Linked DNA regions of Homo sapiens. The protein of the gene in region 1 purifies or fractionates together with the protein of each later gene. This does not show direct contact. Each region holds a gene or a part of one and is shown in the gene's direction. Other genes may lie near its edges.

Region 1 (3,500 bases):
CTTCTAGAATTCCAATTAAATGTATGTTAGACCCTGCTCTATCTTTCATATCTCTATACTCTCTTCTGTGTTTTTCATCCTTTTGTCTATTTTTCCATGCTTTATTCTGAATAGTTCCTTCTAATCTACCTTCCAATTAACTAATTTTCTCTTTAGCTATATCTAATTTGCTGTAATTAATTACAGTTGCCATTTTTATCCTAAAATTTCTATTTCATATTTTTGTATCTGCCATGGTACTTCTTATGGCTTTTAATTCCCTGCTAACTATTTAAAGTTCTTATTTTATCCTGTGAATATGATATTCCTAGTTATTTTATTTTTAATTTTTATTATTTGTTAATCTTATGTTTTATTTACACTTCTTTTCTGTGACATGAGCACACACAGATTCATGTGTATACATATATGGCTCTGATACCTCTCCTTTCCTGTCCTCATTCAAACCACTGATCACAGAGAGAGGACTATTTTTTTTTATTTTTAATTTTTCTATTTCAATAGGTTTTTGGGGGAACAGGTGGTGTTTGGTTACATGAATAAGTTCTTTAGTGGTGATTTTGGTGCACCCATCACCCAAACAGTGTACATTGTACCCAATGTGTAATCTTTTAACCCTTGCCACACCCCACCCTTTCCCCGCAGTCCGCAAAGTCCCATGTATCATTCTTATGCCTTTGCTTCCTCATAGCTTAGCTCCCACATATGAGTGAGAACATACAATGTTTGGTTTTCCATTCCTGAGTTATTTAATTAAAATAATAGTATCCAATTCCATCCAGGTTGCTGTGAATGCCATTATTTTGTTCCTTTTTATGGTTGAGTAGTATTCCATGGTGTGTTTGTGTGTGTATAACATTTTTCTTTATCCACTCATTGATTGATGGGCATTTGGGCTGGTTCCATATTTTTGCAATTGCAAATTGTGCTGTTATAAACATGTGTGTGCAAGTATCTTTTTTGTATAATGACTTCTTTTCCTCTGGGTAGATACCTAGTAGTGGGATTGCTGGATCAAATGGTAGATCTACTTTTAGTTCTATAAGGAATCTCCACACTGTTTTCCATAGTGGTTGTATGAGTTTACATTCCCACCAATGGTGTAAAAGTGTTCCCTTTTCACCACATCCACACCAACATCTATTATTGTTTGATTTTTTATTATGACCATTCTTGCAGGAGTGAGGTGGTATCACATTGTGGTTTTGATTTGCATTTCCCTGATAATTAGGGATGTTGAGCATTTTTCCATATGCTTGTTGGTATTTGTTTTTTTTTTTTTTTTTTCATTATTATACTTTAAGTTTTAGGGTACATGTGCACAATGTGCAGGTTAGTTACATATGTATACATGTGCCATGCTGGTGTGCTGCACCCATTAACCCGTCATTTAGCATTAGGTATATCTCCTAATGCTATCCCTCCCCAATTCCCCCCACCCCGCTTGTTGGTATTTGTATATCTTCATTTGAGAATTCTCTGTTCATGTCCTTAGCCCACTTTTTGATGAGATTTTTTTTTTCTTGCTGATTCGTTTGAGTTCTTTGTAGATTCTGGATATTAGTTGGATGTATAGATTGTGAAGATTTTCTCCCATTCTGTGGGTTGTCTGTTAACTCTGCTAATTATTTCTTTTGCTTTGCAGAAGCTTTTTAGTTTAATTAAGTCCCATCTATTTATCTTTGTTTTTGTTGCATTTGCTTTTGGGTTCTTGGTCATGAAGTCTTTGCCTAAGCCAATGTGTAGGAGGGTTTTTCCAATATTATCTTCTAGAATCTTTATGGTTTCAGGTCTTAGATTTAAGTATTTGATCGATTTTGAGTTGAATTTTGTATAAGGGGAGAGAGAAGGATTCAGTTTCATTCTTCTACATGCAACTTGCCAATTATCCTAGGACCATTTGTTGAATAGGGTGTCCTTTCCCCATTTTATGTTTTTGTTTGGTTTGTCAAAGATCAGTTGGCTGTAAGTGTTTGGCTTTATTTCTGGGTTATCTATTCTGTTCCATTTGTCTACGTGACTATTTTTATACCAGTACCATGTTGTTTTGGTGACTATGGCCTTACAGTATAGTTTGAAGTCTGATAATGTAATGCCTCCAGATTTGTTCTTTTTACTTAGTCTTGCTTTGGCTATGTGAGCTCTTTTTTGGTGCCATATGAATTTTAGGATTGTTTTTTCTAGTTCTGTGAAGAATGATGGTGGTATTTTGATGGGAATTGCATTGAATTTGTAGATTGTTTTTGGGAGTATGGTCATTTTCACAATATTGATTCTACCCATTCATGAGCATGGGATGTGTTTCCATTTGTTTGTGTCATCTATGATTTTCTTTCAGCAATGTTTTGTAGTTTTCCTTGTAGAGTTCCTAGTTATTTTAAAGTCTGTGTTCGGTCTTTCAGCATTTAAAGTTTGTAGGTTTATTACTATTTCTCTTCTTTCTGTTGGTCATAACTCTTAGTGTTTTGTTTCCTTGTGTGCCTGGTTACATATGTGCTGGTCATTGTATTTGAAAATTATGTGTGAAATAATTTGAGGTTTTGGATTATGTATATTCCTCCAGAAAGAATTTCATTTGCTTCTGTGCATTTCTTAGGAACATTACAAGTCCTTCTTCTCAGTTAATTTTCGTAGTATCTTTATCAGATAGGTGCTATTACAACCACTCACTTAGCAGATGAAAATCATGAGGCTCTGAGAGTCTAAGTCATCTACTTAGAATTGGACAATGGTGAAGCCAGGATTCAAACCCACATCAATAAGAATCCAGCGCTCTTAACAAGGGGCCAGTACACTTTTTTAAAAAATAAAAGGCTAGATAGTAAATATTTTAGACTTTGTGGACTGCACAGCCTCTGTTGCAACTACTCAACCCTGCCTTTGTAGCATGAATGCAGTCATAAACTATACATAAATGAATGAGCCTGGATTCGTTCCAAGGAAACTTTATAAAAACAGGTGGCAGGCTGGATTTGGCCCATGAGAAGTGTAGTTTACACAAAAGTTGAGCAAACCAATTTTTTTCTGATTGTTTTTCCTCTTCTCAGTGTAAGAAGAAGCTTGGGAAGCTGCCACCTCAGTATGCCCTGGAGCTCCTGACGGTCTATGCTTGGGAGCGAGGGAGCATGAAAACACATTTCAACACAGCCCAGGGATTTCGGACGGTCTTGGAATTAGTCATAAACTACCAGCAACTCTGCATCTACTGGACAAAGTATTATGACTTTAAAAACCCCATTATTGAAAAGTACCTGAGAAGGCAGCTCACGAAACCCAGGTATGCTATCCCCACATGGCTTAGCTCCCCTATGTAAATGAACACCTGGATACAGGTACAGTGCCTTGGAAATGGAGGAGGTGGGAGGGCTCCCCACTTAGTGAGAATCTCCTGTTGCCCATCATTGTACTGGGCATTTTACTACTGCCATCTGTTTTAAACACCTACCTCCAACCCTGTGAGGCAGGCACTATGCCAATTATTTTACAGGTGAGTAAACTGA
Region 2 (3,500 bases), on another chromosome or scaffold:
CCATTTTATGTTAGTTTCTCAGGACAGATAGGTTCTAGACCACTCAGATGGTATAAATTTGAACTCTGAATTCAAGTGAGAGCAGGTCTAAGATTATAAATTCTCTAGGGATAATCCTCCTTTAACCCCTAATAGAGCCCGGGTCCTCTTATCTCCCTATATCAGGGAGGTGACTTTTTTCACTAGTTATCCTGGAGCTGTAGTTCTTCAATAATCCTTGCTTTAGATTGGGGACTGGAGTCTCATTTTCAACTTACCACCTCTATTGAGCCCAAACTCTTGCCTCTTATACCTGCATGATTGTTAGAACCCAAACTCCTTGGTTCTGGAGATCGGCAAGACCCTAAGAAGGACAGCTCAGTGGTAGTTTAAACTTACTATTATTTTTCATTTAGTTTTCTTTTCCTCTGGTTTTAGCTGGAATGTCACTTACTTTCTATGTGATCAACTATACATTTTAAGTGATTGTTACATTTTATTCAGTATTTTTAGCTGTTTTATAGTATTAGAGGTTTTCCAGGTTATCTGGTTTGCTGTAGTGGTGGAAATGGAAGTCTGTTGTTTGCCTTTTAATTTCGTAGGACTTATTGTTCATGAAAGCTGTTTAAAATACATTTATCAATCCATTCTCCTGTTTTAAAAATGAGAAAATTACATAAAAAAACTAAACCTTCCCCTTTCTCTATTTCCTTGGGGTATTATTATATGTTTGGTATATATCCCCAGTGAAATGGCTTTCAAAGAAACAAACCAGTCTTCATACCAACCTTAACATCTGGGGCATTTCTTTTACAGTGCAAAAGGATATGTTTTGTAGAAGCTGCCTGTTGGCTGGGTCGGGCCAACTCACACCTGAATTCCACTTACAAATATACTTTTGGGAGAAGAGATGTTGAAAATGGGTGTAGAGAGATTGTTTTAGTATATTGTGAAGCTCACCATTTATAGCAAGGCAGAGGGTTAATTTGTATCACTTTTAAGTCACAATAGCTCATAAGAGATAATCTTTAAAAAAAAAAATCTTAGGATTGTTTATTGCTTTGTTACCAAGATCTTCCACATATTATCTCAGAACAACACTGGGGAGAAATACGGTAGACATCATTATGCCCATTTTACCACTAAGTAAAACTGAGACTTAGTTTCCATTGTTAATGACTCTCCTGAGATTATGCAGGTTGCAGATGGTAATGATGTTATTATACCCTGCCATGAAAATTGAGGCTTCTTATATGTCTTTTTGCCATGCTGCCACTGGTGACATTCTTTATTAGGGCGAAATGAGGTATCAACTCAATATCGGCCATAAAGAACCAGTGTTTTCTTGCAGGTTTATTCAAGTCATTCATTCAACAGGTTTGAGCCCCTGCTATGATCCAGGCACCAGGAACAGATAGGAGCACTTTTCTATAACTGGGAGCTAACGTGCAGGTTTTACATTTGCTGACTGACATGCTTTCTACTTTCCTTTTGTAGATTGATGATGGTCTCCAGCTGTCAAAGAAGATTGTGGTTGCCAAGAGAAAGGTAACCATTTCTCATCCCCTTGAGTGGAATTGGATGCCTCTAGGAGCCCACATTGGCTGGCAGTAGACATGGCCGAATTTACAAGCTACAAGGAGACGGCCTCCAGCCGCCACTTGCGGTTTAAGCTACAGAGTCTAAGCCGCCGCCTTGATGAGTTGGAGGAAGCCACAAAAAACCTCCAGAAAGCAGAGGATGAACTCCTGGATCTCCAGGACAAGGTGATTCAGGCAGAAGGTAGCAACTCCAGCATGTTGGCGGAGATTGAAGTGCTGCGCCAGCGGGTGCTGAGAATTGAAGGCAAAGACGAGGAAATTAAGAGAGCAGAGGATCTGTGTCGTCTGATGAAGGAGAAACTTGAAGAGGAAGAAAACCTCACCCGGGAGCTGAAATCTGAGATTGAGCGGCTTCAGAAACGAATGGCTGAATTAGAGAAGCTAGAAGAGGCCTTCAGCAGGAGTAAGAATGACTGTACCCAGCTGTGTCTGAGCCTGAATGAGGAGAGAAATCTGACCAAGAAAATCTCCTCTGAGCTGGAAATGCTCAGAGTCAAAGTGAAAGAACTAGAATCTTCTGAGGACCGCCTGGATAAAACTGAGCAGAGTTTAGCGTCAGAGTTAGAAAAGCTGAAATCATTAACTCTGAGCTTTGTAAGTGAGAGAAAATACTTGAATGAAAAGGAGAAAGAAAATGAGAAATTGATAAAAGAACTCACTCAAAAACTAGAGCAGAACAAAAAAATGAACCGAGATTATACAAGGAATGCTTCTAATCTGGAAAGAAATGACCTACGGATTGAGGATGGCATCTCTTCCACACTGCCGTCCAAAGAATCAAGAAGGAAGGGTGGTCTGGACTACCTAAAGCAGGTAGAGAATGAAACAAGAAACAAATCAGAAAATGAAAAGAACCGCAATCAGGAAGACAACAAAGTCAAAGACCTTAACCAAGAGATTGAGAAACTTAAGACACAAATCAAACACTTTGAATCGTTGGAAGAAGAGCTTAAGAAAATGAAGTCCAAAAATAACGACCTTCAGGATAATTACCTAAGTGAACAAAATAAAAACAAATTATTAGCCAGCCAACTGGAGGAGATAAAGCTACAAATCAAGAAACAGAAAGAGTTAGAAAATGGAGAGGTAGAAGGGGAAGATGCTTTCCTGTCCAGCAAAGGCAGACATGAGAGGACTAAGTTTAGAGGCCACGGAAGTGAAGCTTCTGTGTCCAAGCACACAGCGCGGGAACTGTCTCCTCAGCATAAGCGGGAACGACTCCGGAACAGGGAGTTTGCTCTCAACAATGAAAACTATTCTCTGAGCAACAGGCAGGTTTCTTCTCCCAGTTTCACCAACAGGAGGGCAGCAAAAGCTTCTCACATGGGGGTGAGTACAGACAGTGGGACTCAGGAGACAAAGAAAACTGAAGACCGGTTTGTACCCGGCTCCTCCCAGAGCGAAGGGAAGAAGTCTAGGGAGCAGCCCTCAGTGCTGAGTCGCTACCCCCCGGCTGCTCAGGAGCACAGTAAAGCGTGGAAGGGGACTTCCAAGCCAGGCACCGAGAGCGGACTGAAGGGAAAAGTGGAGAAGACAACACGAACGTTTAGTGACACCACCCATGGATCTGTTCCCAGTGACCCATTGGGTAGAGCTGACAAGGCTTCTGACACCTCCTCTGAGACTGTCTTTGGCAAGAGGGGACACGTGCTTGGCAACGGAAGTCAAGTAACTCAGGCTGCAAACTCTGGCTGTTCTAAGGCCATTGGAGCCCTGGCCTCATCTCGAAGATCCTCCTCAGAAGGGCTCTCTAAAGGCAAAAAGGCTGCCAATGGCCTTGAGGCTGATAACAGTTGCCCGAATTCCAAGGCTCCTGTTCTATCGAAGTATCCTTATAGCTGTAGAAGCCAAGAGAACATCCTTCAGGGATTTTCAACCTCACATAAAGAAGGGGTTAATCAACCTGCAGCAGTTGTGATG

The links.
Region 2: the proteins of OAS1 (region 1) and LUZP1 purify together in Homo sapiens (co-immunoprecipitation; one large-scale study listed by IntAct). This does not show direct contact.

What each region holds. Positions count from the first base shown.
Region 1 is NC_000012.12:112,913,462-112,916,961, forward strand, and holds part of OAS1 (2'-5'-oligoadenylate synthase 1), read left to right. Parts: intron 1-3,047; coding exon 3,048-3,277; intron 3,278-3,500.
Region 2 is NC_000001.11:23,092,357-23,095,856, reverse strand, and holds part of LUZP1 (leucine zipper protein 1), read left to right. Parts: intron 1-1,476; 5' UTR 1,477-1,595; coding exon 1,596-3,500.